3 separate regions of the Homo sapiens genome follow, and regions 1 and 3 are each linked to region 2. Evidence: fine-mapped expression QTL. A gene starts in region 2. Each other region holds a variant in brackets. All regions are shown on one strand. Distances are from middle to middle.

Region 1 (6,069 bases), 25 kb after region 2:
TGCCATGTTGGCCAGGCTGGTCTGGAACTCCTGACCTCAAATGATCCGCCCGCCTCATCCTCCCAAAGTGTTGGGATTAGAGGCATGAGCCACTGCGCCCGGCCCGTTTTAGGTATCTTTTGACAGGGGGTACGATTTCTAATCACAAACACTTTAAAGACCCATTTGGGATCTAAGATATGAAACATACCTATGTCCCTCCTACAAGGAAATATTCTGTACAAATCAGTTAGGTATTTACAGAGTGCTGCTATCCATTCCCAAATACCTTTCCTAAGAAAGGAAGATGACTTACAGAAGTCCATTAGTTCTATCATTCCAAAAGTCAGGTGGGCTCTGAAGGTGATAAATCCATGAGTTCTTGCCTAGCATGAGAGAAGGCAAGGTGACAGAAAAAGCCTGGGTTGGCGGGTGCGGTGGCTCACACCTGTAATCCTAGTACTTTGGGAGGCCAAGGCAGGCGGATCACGAGGTCAAGAGATTGAGACCATCCTGGCCAACATGGTGAAACCCCATCTCTACTAAAAATACAAAAATTAGCCAGGCGTGGTGGTGGGTGCCTGTAGTCCCAGCTACTCAGGAGGCTGAGGCAGGAGAATCACTTGAATCTGGGAGGTGGAGGTTGCAGTGAGCTGAGACTGCGCCACTGCACTCCAGCCTGGGTGATAGAGCGAGACTCCATCTCAAAAAAAAAAAAAAAAGGCCAGGGTCAATCTGGACTACAGACACAGCTTCCAGTCCTGAATCGACCACTAATTTACCATCTGACCTTTAGCTTCAATTCTTTGGCCTTCAGTTTCCTCATATTTAAATCAAGAGGGCTGGCTCAGGTAATCTCTAATCCCTGGCAGCTCTAAAATTCAATGGAAATATAAAACGGCAGTAAGTTTTTTTTATGGCTTGAACAGGAAGCTAGCACAATTCACAAGGGAAAGTAGACAAGTGTTTGTATTTTGTGTATTTAAATTACCTGCAAGGGGCGGTCCAGCCAGTCCTGCTATGCTCTGAATGAAGATGTAGACCCCAGCTGCAGAAGACATCTTCTCAATGCCCACGACATCATCCTCAGCAAGCAGTGGAATGTGAGTCCCTCCTATTGTTCCAACCATAAACCCAAAAAATATGCTGCATGACATTAGACCCCAGAATTCAGTAGCAAAAGTAAAGGCAAACAGAGACACAGTCAATAAGATGACGCAGATGAGCTCAATGTAAATCTTACGAATGGGCTCCCTGTTGAGGACAAAACCAGCTCCGATCCTTCCGAAAACTTCTGCAATGGCCATCGTAGATAATAAAAAAGCAGCGCGGTCCTGGTCAATGCCCAGACTAATGCCCAGAGGAATGATGTACAAGGAAGGTGCAAAGAATCCCAGTGTTGCAAAGAGACCAAATAATGCATAACAAATAAAACTTTTCTCTTTCAAAATGGAGAAGTCTAATAGCGGGGCTTTCTTTTCGCTTGGCCTGGGGCTGGTCTTCACCAGGACCTGCTGCATGTCGGCCTTCGGCTCCAGTTCCAGGTTAGTGTGAGTAGGCACATTTTTAGGTGAGGTAGTTAGTTCTACTCCTGAGTCAATGGAGTCTATTGAGGTTCGTGTTTTCTCATTTTCAAGCATATACTGCGCTTCTTTCCGATTTTCCTGGATGACTATTTTCGGTGACGCTGGTCCTCTGATAAAGATGGGTCTGAGCAGTGCTCCGAAGATGACAATGTTTAACTGTAGTAGGCCCACGAAGAGGAGGCTGTATCTCCAGCCAATGCGCTCCTTCAGAGCCATGATTGCTTGAATAGGCAGGAGTGAAGAAGAAATAATATAAGGTCAATAATGGACTCAAGACCCAGGAGAAGCCATCAAGAAGAAATATGGATCCAGATTTTGTTATAAGTTCTGTGGAAATTTATTATACTCAGCAGTATGAATGTACTCAATCTTTATTTATTTACTTTTTGAGACAGAGTCTCACTCTGTCACCAGGCTGGAGTGCAGTGGCCTGATCTCAGCTCACCGCAACCTCCACCTCCCGGGTTCAAGCGATTCTCCTGCCTCAGCCTCCTGAGTAGCTGGGACTATAGGCGTGCGCCACCACGACCAGCCAATTTTTGTATTTTTAGTAGAGACAGGGTTTCACTGTGTTGGCCAGGATGGTCTCGATCTCCTGACCTCCTGATCTGCCTGCCTCGGCCTCTCAAAGTACTGGGATTACAGGCATGAGCCACTGCACCTGGCCTTTTTTTGTGTGTTTTAAGTAGAGACAGGTTTTTGCCATGTTGGCCAGGCTGGTCTCGATCACCTGACCTCAGGTGATCCGCCCACCTCAGCCTCCCAAAGTGCTGGGATTACAGGTGTAAGCCACCGTGCTCAGTTACAGATTTTGTTTTGAGATGATCTACACACAGATAAGAATGCTGTGTTTATTAGCATAATCTAAATCCACATTGAATGTAGCTCTTTTGAAAAACGAGAGGACATAACAGGTGAATAATTGCAAATTACTAGATTATTCTGGAATGCATGTGTCAAGAAAGCCCTACCACTGCATATGTGCCCAGTTAGGAATTGAAACCTATTATTAAGGTGGTCTGAATACCTAAAGTGGGGGTTAGGGAGGACAGATCCTAAAAATGAGCTGGAGAAGAGACGTAAATAACGTCTCATTACACATACACTGAAAGTCATCCATACTGTTGGCAAAAGTTAGCGTAGCAAGAATACCTGAGTGACGTCTCTCATCCACATTCATACTTAGGCTGTTGTAGTCCACCTACCTGGTGCGAAAGCAAACACAGCGAAACATTCTCCTGTGGAAGCAACTGCAGTGACTATGGAACGTCTTTTGCCAAAATATTGTGATAGGATGGTTACAGTTGGGAGAAAACTAAAGCAGTATCCCAGACCTGTGAAAGAAAAGTCAAAAAAGCCAATGAGACCCACATACTGCTTGAGACTGGAAGGATGCATTAAAAGATCTGGGATTTTTGGTTTTGCTTTTTGAATCTTAAGTTCTAGGAGCCAAGTAATTCATTCTGGACAAAGGTGATGTTGCAAAGAAAAATGGGTTTCATTAACGGTCTGGATAAACTTCAGTGGTTGTTTGGGATACTAAAAATATAACTTTTTTTTTTTTTATCTTTGCAACACTTTTTTTCAAATTTATATAATTCACAATGGATGAAACTATTATTGCATGAAATTTTATATAAGATTTGTATCTAGAAAGAAATAAGTCATTTCATATGTGCAGAAATACAGGAAAAATTTAAAGTCTGCAAATCTTAACAACTGTGTGTGTATCTATCATCTATGAGGAATATATGGCCTCCTTTTATTGTTCATTTCATTTTTTTTTTTTTAAACAGACAGGGTCTCACTCTGTTGCCCAGGCTGGAGTGCAGTGGTGTGATCACAGCTCACTGGAGCCTTGACCTCCCAGGCTCAAGTGATCCTCCCACCTCAGCCTCCAAAGTGATAGGATGGTTACAGCTGGGACCACAGGCA[C/T]GCACCACCACGCTTGGCTAGTTTTTATTTTTTGTAGAGATGGAGTCTCCCTATGTTGCCCCAGTTGGTCTCAAACTGCTGGGCTCACGTGATCCTCCTGTCTCAGCCTCCCGAAGTGCTGGGATTACAGGCATGAGCCACCATGCTGGCTACTCCTTTTGAATGGAAAAAGGTTTTCTTAGGCCCCCAAGAATAAGTCTGGCATGTTGCACTTCCCCTACAGCCCTGGATCCTCAGACACTGATGTGAGAAATACTGGCTACAGAAATTCGTCTTACTTTGTAAAAATGCTATCTTTTGGCTGCAAATACAGCAAAAGAGAAATTATCATCATCTTTGGTGAAGATCAAACAAAAACCCTTGGGCACTTGAGAACAGATTCCCAGGTCCCCTGAAGTCCATATAGCTCAGTTCAAAACTACTGATCTGAGACACTGTTAATGTTAAAGAAAAAAAGAAAGAGAAAGAAATATAGTTTGGCTTTAATTTCCTCCTTCCCCTTCCTTGTTCTTCAAACTAAGTGTCTAGACAACTTCTGAGCCAAAGAGGAACACTTACCAGAGATGATGCCGATGGCGACGTACATATGAGAAACCTCTTGTGAGAAGGAGGCGGCCACCATCCCGGTGCTGACAAGTAGCCCCCCCAACATCACTACCAGACGGTGTCCGAAACGATTGCTCAGGACTGTGGCGAGGGGAGCTGCCGGGAAAGAACAAAACGATATTTTAACTCACAGAGGCTTCAGGGTTAGCTGCCATAAGACTCCTTCCTCCACGTCTTGCACATGGAGAGATGATGTCGAATATAAATATGGCCGAGCGCAGTGGCTCATGCCTGTAATCCCAGCACTTTGGGAGGTTGAGGACGGAGGATCGCTTGAGCCCAGGAGTTCAAGACTAGCCCGGGCAACATGGTGAAACCCCGTCTCTACAAAAAATACAAAAATTAGCCAGGCATGGTGGTGTGCACCTGTAGTCCCAGCTACTTGGCAGGCAGAGATGGGAGGATTGTTTGAGCCTGGGAGGCAGACGATGCAGTGAGCCAAGATTGCACCACTGCACTCCATACTGGGTGACAGAGTGAGACCCTGTCTCAAGAAAAAACAAAACCAAACCATAACACATTTCATGCAAAGTCAGTGCAGGAATTATTTTACTATTTGTTCAAATTCAACACGATTTGTCAGACTCCTGAAAGAGAAAGCCAGAATAACAGTATAAAACTTTTATCTATATTTTTAGATGACTCTGACTCACCATGAGCACCTATAAAATTAGATATGTATTGAATTTATGTTATTCTATAATAAAAATTGGTTTTCCTATGATTGCTTGAATTATTTTTTCTCTACTCACTACTTTGGATTCTTTTTAAAAAGCTCCATTTGGGGTCAGATTCTAGTTAGTTTCTTTCTTTTTTTTTTTTTGAGATGGAGTTTTGCTCTTGTTTTCTAGGCTGGAGTGCAGTGGTGTGATCTCGGCTCACTGCAACCTCCACCTCCTGGGTTCAACTGATTCTCCTGCCTCAGCCTCCCAAGTAGCTGGGATTACAGGCATGTGCCACCATGCCCGGCTGATTGTGTATTTTTAGTAGAGATGGGGTTTCTCCATGTTGGTCAGGCTGGTCTCGAACTACTGACCTCAGGTGATCCGCCCACCTCGGCCTCCCAAAGTGTTGGGATTACAGGCGTGAGCCACCGCGCCCAGCCTAGTTAGTTTCTTGACAGGATGAAAGAATGTGAATTCTAAGTTATGCACTCCTGAAGGAGAGTTGCTATGGGATAGATAATTGAAAGTGAATCATCATTTGCTTAGCTTCTATAAGCTGTATCCCCTAGGACATTTAAATCTGGCAAATTAGTTTCCTAGTTATAGGTTACTTAATATTAACTTGACAACAGTGACGTAAGTGAGCCATTGAGAGTTGGGTCAAGGAACAACAACATGCTAGAAAAGGAAGTGGGAAAAAAAGGATTCCATTTTTTTGGGTTAGTCTATATGTATCTACTATGTTAACTATTAGAATACAAAGTAATCTTGGATGTAGCTCATAATAAAACCACTCTCATCATTTTGAGCCAGGATGTTGGCTCAAAGCATTAACAACTAGAATAATAGCATTTGGAAGAATTATCTTCTGGTATAATAGTATTAAGTGGAAATTTCTTGTTGACTACATTTTTATTTTTAGTTATAAAAGACCTAAAACTTAAGCTTTGGGATTTTCTTTTTATTTAGATTACCAAATGTAACATTTTAGTCCTAATTCATTTGTTATCTTTCTAAGAAGGTAATTAAGCATTCCACAATTTAAAAATGAAGTTATCTTGGCTGGGTGCGGTGGCTTACACCTGTAAATCCAGCACTTTGGGAGGCCGAAGCAGGTGGATCACGAGTTCAGGAGTTAGAGACTAGCCTGGCCAACATAGCAAAACCCCGTCTCTACTATAAAAATACAAAAAATTAGCCAGGCGTGGTGGCAGGTGCCTGTAATCCCAGCTACTCGGGAGGCTAAGGCAGGAGAATCACTTGAACCTGGGAGGCGGAGGTTGCAGTGAGCTGAGACC
Region 2 (6,069 bases):
GCAGGTAAGAAAAAATTATTAGTGTTTTTTATTTTATTTCATTCATGTGTTCAGTAAAGTTGAACACATGGATGTTAATGGACCATTCGGGTTATATGGTTCATATTTTTTGCTCATTTTTATGTCATGGTGTTTATCTTTTCTGTGCTGATTTGTAAAAGCTATTTTAAAACCCTTCATCTGCCATATATGTTACATTTCTTTCCTGCTTTCTGCCACCTTCCAATTTGTTACCAACTTTCTTCTCCAACCTTGGGCCACTGGCATATACACTCATTTTAAATATCAGAACTTGTAGTGCTCTTTGAAATGCAGACAGACTATGGTTCATTCTGCAACTGCATATTAGTTAACAGGCAAAAATACCTTAGTAAGAGAAAGTGTCTTTTCCTTCTAATGTAAAAAAAAAAAAAAACCTAACCCCCCCGAAGCACTAAGGTGTTTATTTGTTTATTTTTTTGAACAGGGTCTCACTCTGTTGCCCAGGCTGAAGTGCTGTGAATCACAGCTGACTGCAGCCTCGATCTCCTAGGCTCAACCCATCCTCCCACCTCTGCCTCCCAAGTAGCTGAGACTACAGGCATGTGTCACTACACCTGGCTTTTTTTTTTTCTTTTTTCTTTTTTTTTAGAGATGGGGTCTCCCTATGTTGACCAGGCTGGTCTGGAAGTCCTAGGCTCAAGTGATTCTCCTTTCTCCTGTCTCAGCCTCCCAAAGTGCTGGGATCATAGGCATGAGACACCATGCCTGGTCAGTTATTTAAGAAAATAAATATTAGACCATGCAGAAATAATGCTATCCTAAAATTTGTGAGCAAGTACAAAGTTCATGATTTAGAAATTTAAACAGTTTAAACGCAAAATGAAGTTCTTTTTAATGAATACCAAAAAACTGACTGAAAATCTAGTGAATACCTTTTATGCTTCAGACACCTCGTATAGAGAGTCTTTACCCTCAAGCATCTCGCAGTTGAGTAAGGGTGACATGTAAGAAATAGGTTACAATCATTGTGACAAGGACAACTGCAGTATTATTATGTACACACAAGGCAATGAACAGGCAGAAGTAAAGTTTTGTCATGAGGCAGGATGAGGCTATAGAAGAGGTGACAACTAAGCTAAAGAAGCCACTCAGGATGTCAGAAGACAGCTGTTCAGTCAAAAACAGGCACAGTATCCAAAGGAACTCATTTGATCCCTAAAATTCTGTTAAGATGTGCTGTAGGTGGGGCGCGGTGGCTCACGCCTGTAATCCCTGCACTTTGGGAGGCCGAAGTAGGTGGATCACCTGAGGTCAGGAGTTCAAGACCAGCCTGGCCAACATGGTGAAACCCCGTCTCTACTAAAAATACAAAAATTGGCTAACATGACGAAACCCTGTCTCTACTAAAAATACAAAAAAAAAAAAAAAAAAAAAAATTAGCCGGGCGTGGTGGTGTGTGCCTGTAGTCCCAGCTACTCTGTAGACTGAGGCACGAGAATCGCTTGAACCCAGGAAGCATAAGTTGCAGTGAGCCGAGATCGCACCACTGCACTCCAGTCTGGATGACAGAGCGAGACTTCGTGTCAAGTAATAATAATAAAAAAAGATGTGCTGTAATTGTCTCCGTTTTACAAAAGAGGTCAAGTAGTTGACACAGGTCCCACGCTAGTGAGGGTTTTGGGATTCAAGCACAGACCACCTTCGCCCCTATGCTACACCACCTCAGGCTGTCGGGAGATAGGCGCCCAGTCAAAAGGCACATGGAAGAAAGCCCACGACTTCTCAAGCATTGAAGCAGGAGTGGCGCATCGGTATTCTCAACTTCAAACTTTGAGAACAGTCATGGTAGGAATGCATTTTATTCAAGAATGGGTTCAGGTGAGGGTGGATATGGGCACTGGGTTCAAAGGACAAATTTGGAGAATTCATGATCCAGGAGAGTGAACAAATAAGGAAGGGCTAAAGAGATCCTCGAAGTTGAAAGGTTCAGAGTTAATGTCCTCTAAGGAGAGCCAACAAGGGGTTACAAATGCTGAAGTCATCAAGAAAATGTGCCTGTCTTTCCTTGAGACTGGGAAGGAGAATTAGGATGACGAAAATCCAGAGGATGGTAAAATAGCTTGACTTCAAAATAACAGGCCGGGCGCCGTGGCTCACGCCTGTAATTCCAGCACTGTGGGAGACCGGGGTGCGGGGGGGTGGATCACCTGAGCGCAGGAGTTCGAGACCAGCCTGGGTAACAGGGTGAAAACCCGTATTAAAAAAAAAAAAGCCGGGCGCGGTGGCCCACGCCTGTAATCCCAGCACTTTGGGAGGCCAAGGCGGGCGGATCACTTGAGGTCAGGAGTTCGAGACCAGCCTGGCCAACATGGTGAAACCCCATCTCTACTAAAAATAACAAAAATTAGCCGGACGTGATAGCGGGCACCTGTAGTTCCAGCTACTGGGGAGGCTGAGGCGGGAAAATCGCTTGAACCCAGGAGGCAAAGGTTGCACTGAGCCCAGACTGTCCCACTGCACTCCAGCCTGGGCAACAGAGCAAGACTCCGTCTCCAAAAAAAAAAAAAAAAAAAAAAAAGCAAGAAAAAGAAAGAGAATGGCGAGGCCCAGAGAGACCGAAAGTCCCACCAGAGGGTACAGAGCTAGCTCAGCCCTAATGCCGGCCCCGCGGTGCCTTTCCGAGCTCACGGCCTCCCCTCAGCATCCGGGTTTCGGCCTCGGAGCGCCAGGGACGCCACGAGGACGCGCCCCACACTTGCGCTTCTGGGTTCCAGCCCCCGCGGCCCCCAACAAATAAAGAAGGGAAAGTGCTGAGGGTGACGGCCCCGGGGAGCGCTGCGGCTCTACGTCAACCTGCGGCGGCCGCCGACTCATTTGGGGCCACGCTGGTTGCATTCGTCACGCCGGCGATGCCTCTCAAACCCGCGGCCTGCCGAGGACGTTCCCACACGGGAGACCCCAGCGACGCGGGCGCATCTGTGGCTCTCGAGAACCGGGCCGCGGAGCCGCCGCGAGCGCAAGCGAGGAATCGGCGACTGCGGGGGTGGACAGCTGGGGCTTGTAGTCCCCTCGCTACCCTCTATTCTGGAAGAGGCGGGTCGCGGCCGCTGAACTCCAGCTCTGCGCCTGCCCAGGCGGCCGCACGCTCAGGGGCGTGGCATGGGTGGGTCGTGAGTTGGGCGGGGCCCACAGGGCGTGCGCGACGCAGCGGCGCGGCGCGTGGCGTAAGGGGCGTGGCGCCAGTGGGCGTGGCGTGGCGCAGTGCGAAGGGACGCGGTGCGCATGCGCGTGAGGGCTGCCGCGGGTGGGTGGTATCGAGGCCTGTCGGGTCAGGGCGGTTCGCGGGTGCTGTCAGAGCTGGGCCGGGGCCCCTAGGCAGGGTAGCCGGGTCGTAGAGGCGGGGGCCGGTCGCGGTCGGTGGAGCGGGATGAGGATGTAGGAGGGGCGGACGTGGCGGAAGCCGCGGGGTCCGCGGGGTCGGTGCCTCTAGGGAGCCAGGGAGGCCTTTCCCGAGGCTCCTGGGGAAGAAGAGGCGAAGCGAGAGTCCCTGGGGAACCCCCACTCCACTCCCAGCTGGAGACTGGGTTGTGTCTGCATGGACCAGAGCCCACAGTGCGAGTTGCTATAGGCAACCAGCCAGGGTGGCCAGCTCCTTCCCGTTTGCCCGTGATGTTCTGGTTTTGGGACCAAAGCATCCTAGGCCTCCAGCCCACTGCAGTGACCGAATTCTGCGCCCCCTGCCCATCTTCTCCCGCAGCTTCCCTAGATTAGGCTTGGGAGGCAAGAGGAGGCCTCCTGACCTTTCACACTGCCTTTTTAATATTAAGATGAAGTCACACTCCACAACTTTCTTCCAGCCAGGCCCAGACATGTCCGTCCTTGTAAGTTAAAAGCTTCCATGGGAGCCTTCCTTCCTAATCAAGGTAGGTAGACTACAGGAAGGTACATCTTGTTTTATATTTTGTCCTGTAGAAGTCAGATTTCAGCCCAGTTGTGTAGGAGTGAGGATGAGCCTATGCTTATATCAGAGCTTTGAGTACAGAGACATTTGGTCTGGAATTTTAGTCAGCCTCTTCAACCCCAGAATTTATAGGTTCAATCAGAACAGACATTAGCTTAAGTTTTCCCATCAATCGTCTATCATTAAACTGGCAAAATCTAAATAATTAGAAAATATGACAAAGATGATCCAGACAGAGATGTTCAACTTTTTCCTTAATTCAAAAAGCCTCGTGGTGGAACATCGGACCCATTCAAGAGGAAGGATGAAAGCTCTATATAGGAACACGATGTGAATGGAAGAAACCTGTCATTGTGAGGCTGGCTTTTGATTAGTCATCTGATGTCTTCCCTAATGTGACATGACTTTGAGGCCATAAACTTCAGTGGCTAAGCTGTAGTTTCTCAGCCTGCAGTTAAATTGCAGAAATGATAGGGCTTACATTAGTTTTGTTTTTATTTGATGTTGAAGATCTTTGAGTCACATTAGAAACGATGAGTATTTTTCATGTGGCACTGATGAGTTAATTCATATTATTATTTTTTGAGACAGAGTCTCTATTGCCCAGGCTGGACTGCAGTGGCACGATCACGGCCCACTGCAGCCTCGACCTCCTGGGCTCAGATGATCCTCCCATCTTAGCCTGCCAAGTAGCTGGGACTACAAGTGCACATCACCACATCCGGCTAATTTTTTTGTAGATATGGGGTTTTGCCATGATGTCGAAGCTGATTTCAGACTCCTAGGCTCAAGTAATCCTTCTGCCTTGGCCTCCCAAAGTGCTGGGATTATAAGCGTGAGCCACTGTGCCAGGCCAATATTATTCCCCAAAAGAAGGAAGTTGGGTGTGAGGTCCTGCTCCTGTGGTCACCGTGAGGTTTTTTTTTTTTGTTTTGGACTCTTGCCCAGGCTGGAGTGCAGTGGCACAGTCATGGCTCACTGCAGCCTCAAGCTCCTGGGCTCAAGTGATTCTCCTGTCTCAGCCTCCCTGGTAGCTAGGACCACAGATGTGCACAACTATGCCCAGGGAATTTTTAAATTTTTTGTAGAGACAGGGTCTCACCATGTTGCCTGAGCTGTTCTCAAACTCCTGGCCTCAAGCAATCCTCCTATCCCAAAGTGCTGAAATTACAGGCATGAGCCACCACACCTGGCCACCACTAGTTTTTGTAATGGGAGCAGGTTCCATATGAGATGGAGGAATGGATTTCATGATTGTCTTTTTAATTTCTTAGATCTCCAAGAAATTGGACATGAGGAAACCACTCTAAGTGTGACCACTCTAAAGCATTAGCAATCAGTCATTTCACTCTAGGGAGAAATCAGAGCTGAAATATAGAGGATAGGTAAAGTCCCCAATGTAGATATGTATTTTTATATTTGATTACTTGCTTTTTTTTGTTAGATGCAAATAATACGGCACTCCGAACAGACACTAAAAACAGCTCTCATCTCAAAGAACCCAGTGCTTGTATCACAGTATGAGAAATTAAATGCTGGGGAACAACGTTTAATGAATGAAGCCTTCCAGCCAGCCAGTGATCTCTTTGGACCCATTACCTTGCATTCTCCATCAGATTGGATCACCTCCCACCCTGAGGCTCCCCAAGACTTTGAACAGTTCTTCAGTGATCCTTACAGAAAGACACCCTCTCCAAACAAACGCAGCATTTATATACAGTCCATTGGTAAATACTGGTAATGTGCTGGTTTTGGTTCAGTTTTGCAGTGGCGCTCTTGTCAGGAATAGTCCAGGCTATGGGTCTGATTCAGATGGGCCGTTTTAGGATCGTTTTTGATATTCATTGCGGCGGTACAAGTTTTGTAGCCAAACTGACTTAAAAGATAACATTTTGTTTCTTTTTGTTTCATAGCAACACCAATGAATGATAAAGGTTATTGAAAATTTAGAGTTGGTTTTGTTTCTAATTTGAATCTTCTTACTCATAGACTGGGTAAACACTGAATAATCATCTTAAAGTCTGTTTTTAAATGTTCTTCCATATTGTAGGCTCTCTAGGAAACACCAGAATTATCAGTGAAGAATATATTAAATGGCTCACGGGCTACTGTAAAGCATATTTCTA
Region 3 (6,069 bases), 51 kb before region 2:
TATAGTTATAATTTGGAATTATTTGACTCCAATTATTTTGATCTTAAACTAATAAGTTGCTTTTCTGGTTTATTCATGAAAATGTCAATGAAATATTTAATAATGTGTATCTGTGTATTTATATAAGGCTCGTAATATCCTATAGCCCTTGAAAGCCAATATGGCTCACTTACTTTGCCATTTTTAAGTTGTCTTTTTATTAATGATTTGTAGAAAAACTATATGTCCTGGATAGAAGTCACTTGTCAGGTATGCATATAGTACAAATAATTTTTTTCTGTCTCTGGCTTTTTATTTTTTTGATATTTATTTACTTATTTAGAGACTTCGCTCTGTTGCCAGGCTGGAGAGCAGTGGCACCATCTCGGCTCACTGCAAGCTCTGCCTCCCATGTTGAAGCGATTCTCCTGCCTCAGCCTCCCGAGTAGCTGAGACTACAGGCATCTGCCACCATGCCCAGCTAATGTTTTTTGTTTTTGTTTTTGTATTTTTTGTATTTTTAGTAGAGACAGGGTTTCGCCATGTTGGCCAGGATGGTCTCAATCTCCTGACTTCATGATCTGCCCACCTCGGCCTCCCAAAGTGCTGGAATTACAGGCGTCAGCCACCGCGCCCGGCCACCTTTTTATTTTTTCCACGTATTTTGATGAGCAAAAGTTTACAATGTTAATACAATCAATTTATCATTCTAAAACACATTTTGTAGGTGTTGTGCCTTCTTTAGGAAACATTTGCATATTCCAAAGTCAGAAGTAATTTCTCCAATGCGTTCTTCTAGAAGACATACAGTTATTTAGCCCTCTGTTTAGGCTTATTATCCACTCAGTTAATTTTTGCATTTCATGGAAGGTTGGTTTATTTTTTTAATATATGGAAATATAGTTCGGCACCATGTGGCAACTCTTTCTTTTACCCATAGATTTGCTTGGCATCTTATCAAAAGTAAATTAAACATATATGTGTGTATGTCTAGTTCGGTAATCTCTATTCTATGCTATTGGTCTATTTTTCTTTCCTTAGCCAATACTAGTGTCTCCTGATAGTGTATATTTATATTAAAACTTGAGGTTCTGTAAAACAAATCCTCCAGTTTCTTAGTCTTTATGAAAATTGTCCTGACTATTCTAGATCCTTTGCGTATACATATAAATCTTAGAATTCACCTGTCAATTTATTTTAAAAATTCTACCAGAATTTTAATTCAGCCTCTTTTGATATTTGCCAAATATTTGCCAAGGAGTTACTTGCCAAAATATCTCTTTCCTTTCCTTTTACAGTTACACGTATGGTAGACTCAGAATTCTCCTACTGGTCACTGAGGCTCTGTTCATTTTAGTTCAACCATTTGTTAAACTTTTAAACCATTTTTTTAACTTATAAAGCAAAGAAATCATTTAATTTTCAAGTCAAGTTTCCTTGATTTGAGCTCAAATAATAGCTCAAATCAAATAGCTGATGGCGGGTGCCTGTAATCCCAGCTACTCAGGAAGCTGAGGCAGGAGAATCACTTGAACCCAGAGGTGGAGGTTGCAGTGAGCTGAGATTGTGCCACCGCACTCCAGCCTGGGCAACAGAGCGAGACTCCGTCTCAAAAAAAAAAAAAAAAAAAAAAAAGGCTGATATATGGTGTGCGCTAGGCATGTGGTAAGCACTGCTTAGTGGACCTCATTTAATCTTCCCAATAATCCAGTGAGGTGGGTGTTACTATCCCGTTGATAGGAAAGAAAGCTGAGCTGCAGAGATAAGGCAGAACTCCCAAGGCCTACCAGGCAGCAGAGTGGGGCATCATACATGCCTGACCCCACGCAAAGACCATCACTACTGCCAGCCGCTGCCTGGCTGTGTGCAGGTGGGGAGAGACCTAAAAGGTAGGGAGGGAGAGAAGATTCCTCCAGTCACTATTTTCTAAGCAGGTCAATGCTTAGACCAATGCTGAGTTCTGCTGTGTGCCCACCCTGGAGGGTCCCAAGGTGCCACCAGGTCTCAGACACACTGAGATTCTCAGAGTAAGTGTGGATTCAACGGGTGGGCAACGCCTAGCGGGGGCAAACATATAGAGATAAGGGAGTTCCAGAACGAGTGTGGCCAGATTCAGCTTCCCACCCAACCTTGGACCCCCAGGAGGTGGTGTCAAGAGGGGCCATGGCCTGGGGTGCGGGCGTCTCTTCCTCCCAGAACACTAGCCTGAATCAGCCAGCTCTGCGCACACACAGCCAGGTCCACAGGCACAACAATTTCCTGGGGCCCCTGAGGGCAGGGG[G/T]TCTGCTGGGGCTGGGGCTTGTGATGTGTGGAGTGAGCGCAGGCTCAGATCAGGGCAAGGCAGCTTGTCCAGAGAGGCAGATAATTCCCAAACAGAAGACCTCCAAGGCAGAGGGCCCTGGGGCTGGACTCCTGGCCTCCAGGAGGTTGTTCTGAGCTTACCCTGTGGACGGATTGGAGGGTGGCCCTCTTTCCCCACAAGGATCAAGAGGGACTGGGGGATGGTGGGAAGGCAATCTGGCCAGGAGAAGCTGCGGGGGAGACTCCCGCCATCCCCAGTCCCACCATCTCAGCCCCGCGGCCTCTTCCTCCCTGGAGACAGCCAGGTGTGGCCCAGGATCCCGGGAAGTGCAGCAGGGGAGGGGGTGGCGTCTTCGCTCCTCAGGCGCTGGCCCGGCGCCAGGAAGCCAGTGCGCCGGGGATTGTCTCTGTCAACTGCAGCCCAGACCCAGTCCGGGAAGTTCTGCCAGGCGCTCTCCGCCGGTGCCTCCCTGGTTATACTGTTATACAGGAAACCTGGCAGCGCGGGAGCCGCGCGGTCGAGGAGGGAGCGCGGAACGCCGAGCCCACGCGCGCCTGCCGGGGCAAGTGGAGGCGAGGCCGGCGAGCGGACGCCCCGAGCTGCCCGGGCAGGCAGGGTCGGGAGTGAGGCGCCGAGCGGGGGTTGAGGTGGGAAGTGGGGTTAGGGGTGGGGGTAGGGGGTGGGGAAGGGGACAGGGTGGGGGAGGAAAGGGTGCGGCAGGTGGCTGGTCCGCACCTGGGAGCTCCGCGCGCCTGCTCCCCTTAGTTCCGCGCTGGGGCAGGATCTGCGCGGGCCGCATCCCACGCGAAGGAGAAGGTAGGCGAAGGGCTGCCCTCCATTGGGCTGGAGGGCAGCAGGGAGGCCCCCAACGCCCACCCAGGCGTTGACGCCTCTGTATCTTGCGTCGCCTGGGCGGTGGACGCAGGAGACCTCCTGGCGACTGGTGCGCTCCTGCGCTCCAGGGATCCTCCCGGCACCCCGCCCCCCCCACCAATCTCTCTCCTTCTCTGTGTGCCCCCAGGTCGGGGAAGGAGCCGTGGCCGGGTCCCCTTCTTATCCAGCCCGAGACACCGCGCCTGGTGGGCGTCCCTGCGCTGGGAATCCCGCTCGGAGTTTTTCCAAGCCCGGCCGGGCTGTGCGGGGAAAGGCCCTGGTGAGGGAGGCGGGCCCGGAGCTGGCGGTCTGCAGTCCGGTTGGAAGTGCTCGCAGTGGGGGATTCAGGGTGCAAATGATCTCCCCGCGAGCGGGAACGCCCGGACAAGACAACCAGCCCCAGCCCAGCATTCCCAGAGCCGCGTGCGGGAGGGACGCAGGGACGCAGGGACAGCAAATCCCCAGGTGAGGGGAGAAGGGGGAAGGCCGGGCAGGGGCGGCCCCACCCTCCTTGGGTTCTGCTAGCGATCAGCCAGCACCCCTTCAGACGCAGCCCTCCCGGCTCCAGGCCCCGGCCTTCTGCTTCGGGCCTTGTCTTCCCCATGCCCCCAAGGTCCCCAGCAGAGGCCTTCTGGCCCCTCCTCGCCCCGCCCAGACACAGCTGCTTTGGGTATCGGTGACAGCACTCCTGAGTGTCCCTGTCCCTCTTAGCTCCCGTTGCCAGCTCCGGTTCCGTGCAGCCTCTCCGGCTTCGCCCCTGGAAGCCACGCCCAGGGCGATGGTCGGGGCCTAACCTGCCGGCTCGGCCCCCCCCGGCCCTTGGGCTCCCTGAGGCCCGCCCAGCCGACGTGAGTGCGCTGCGGGGTCCATGGGGAAGGGGCGCCGGGGCAGTGTCCTCCTTGGGGTTTGTTGGTCCAGCTCTGGGCAGCTCGATGACCCCGCCTCCGGGACCCAGTGTGCTTAGTGACTCAGTTTACACTTTTTCCTCGTCGAGGAACGCTTGAGAAAGTGGCGAAGGAGCCCTACGGGGGGCCTGGTTGGACCCTGCTCCTTCAGTCCCTCAGCCTCGGCAAGCGGCGGTCTCCTGGCCCCTGGTCCGGGTCACCTTAGGAGGCAGGAGGAGATGTGGTCAGTGTGGGAGCTTGGAGGGGCCATGCACTTCCGGAGAAGACCACCGACTCGTGGCTTTGGTGGAGGGGTGCAGGCAGATTTAGTTAGGCTCTCCCCCATCCCTGACACACTGGAGCCGGGGCGGGAGCGGGGCTTGTGACCACTCCGGAGAGCTTTGGGGGCCCCTGCTCTGGGACTCCGCACGGATAGTCACTGTCTCAGAGTGCATTCTCCAGGGGCCACTCTCGTGGAGGCATCCGGGGGGTCCCAGGGCAGGTGGGCAGCCTTTTTCGGGGGGGGTGCGGTGTGAGAGCCGGAGAGCAGGGGGCGGGGCGGGCCCGGCTGGGGCTCACGTCTGCGTTGAAGCCTCTGGGGAAGGAGAGAGAAACCAAGAGAACCGGTTCCCCCGCCTTGACAGCGGAGGCCCTCACACCGAGGCCCTTGGACTAAACCGGGCAGGGACAGCCCGCAGGTAAAGCTGTTCTCCGGGGCGTCTGCAGAGCCCGCATCCCAACCCTGACCCAGGGGCCGGGGCGCAGGCTCCTGGAGGGAGGCGGTGCTACGGGACTCTGCGGATTCTCTGCGGGCGGGAGGCGTCCAGGCGGGACAGGGCCCGGGGAGCGGCTGGCAATGGGCTGCTCTTCCCACTTGACTGATGGAAAACTAAGGCTCAGTCACCTGAGTAAGCGTGGTGTCGACCTCAGAGCGGGCAATCACCCCTCGTTTTAAAACCAAAGTTTCCCTCGCAGTCGATTTGGACCAAGACTACCCACAATCTCCCCACCGCAGGACTGAAGCGAGGCTGAAATCTTAGAATCAACCCCACGGAATGAAGAGGTTGTCGTAATTCCAGCACTGAGTGTAAGAATGGAAGCCTTACATGTGATTTTATTCAAGTCCCCATTTTAGAAATGGAAAAACTCAGGCCCGAAGGCGAACGGCGAATGCAGCATCGGGACTCGAACCCAAGTCTGTCCCCGAGTGCGGGGCTATTCCAGGCTCGGTGGTCTTGACCTCCACGGCCCTCCTCCTTGTTGCCTGCAGAAAAACGCCGCGGCCACGATGCCGGCGTATGTGGAGGGGGATGTCTACCTGGTGGTGGAGCACCCCTTCGAGTATACCCGCAAGGACTGGCGCCGCGTGGCCATCTGGCCCAATGAGCGCTACTGGCTGCTGCGGCGCAGCACGGAGCACTGGTGGCACGTGCGGCGCGAGCCTGGCGGCCACCCCTTCTACCTGCCCGCGCAGTACGTGCGCGAGCTGCCTGCGCTGGGCAAATGACCTCCCCGCGAACGGGAACGCCCGGACGAGACAACCTGCCACTGCCGCGCCGCCAGGTCCCCCCAACAGTCCCCTCGGCCCCCGAGCCGCTCACCTACGACTACCGGCTTGTGAGCGCGGCGGCGGCAGCGGGCCCCGACAGCACCCCCGCGGAGCCCCGAGGCCGCGCCAGCTCCCTGTGCGGCCCTTCGCAACGCGGCGCCGCGACCCAGCGCAGCAGCCTGGCGCCCGGCCTGCCCGCCTGCCTGTACTTGCGGCCTGCGCAGTCCCTGGACTACCTGGCGCGCGCCGCCGTCTCGCCTCCCGCCGGCCACCTCGGAAGGAGCGGCAGCTTCAAGGCTGCAGTGTGGCGGGTTCCTGGATGTGCCCGCGGCCCCTGGCGCGCAGCGACTCAGAGACCGTCTACGAGGCCATCCAGGATGTGCACGGCCCGCCGCGGGAGGAGAGCGGGGAACAGGGGTGGCGCGCTGGGGACCGCGCCCGCACGGAGCCGGGGCGCGAGGAGACCTGCTCCGCTCAGCGTC

The links. PIP is the estimated chance that this variant, and not a neighbour inherited with it, causes the effect.
Region 1: its variant is the best candidate, but not a certain one, in a credible set for the expression of AMZ2 in whole blood (TOPMed, PIP 0.70).
Region 3: its variant is the best candidate, but not a certain one, in a credible set for the expression of AMZ2 in whole blood (INTERVAL, PIP 0.85).

What each region holds. Positions count from the first base shown.
Region 1 is chr17:68,269,869-68,275,937 of GRCh38, forward strand. SLC16A6 (solute carrier family 16 member 6) reads right to left here. Exons shown (of 6, transcript NM_004694.5): 3 at 4,059-4,202; 4 at 2,771-2,899; 5 at 971-1,786. It also overlaps a transcript of ARSG not described here. Among named protein-coding and RNA genes, the nearest start is that of SLC16A6, 18 kb to the right of the region's middle. The variant C/T (reference allele first, on the strand shown) is at 3,501.
Region 2 is chr17:68,244,801-68,250,869 of GRCh38, forward strand. It overlaps AMZ2 (archaelysin family metallopeptidase 2), which reads left to right and starts at 3,243. Exons shown (of 7, transcript NM_016627.5): 1 at 3,243-3,905; 2 at 5,388-5,670; 3 at 5,994-6,069. The coding sequence starts at 5,388. RefSeq lists enhancers at 1,763-2,309, 2,310-2,855 and silencers at 3,070-3,369, 4,679-4,728.
Region 3 is chr17:68,193,595-68,199,663 of GRCh38, forward strand. LOC105371870 (a long non-coding RNA gene) reads left to right here. Exons shown (of 4, transcript XR_934937.4): 4 at 1-1,082. It also overlaps the pseudogene ARHGAP27P2. Among named protein-coding and RNA genes, the nearest start is that of AMZ2, 51 kb to the right of the region's middle. RefSeq lists silencers at 5,698-5,787, 5,818-5,957, 5,968-6,047. The variant G/T (reference allele first, on the strand shown) is at 2,261.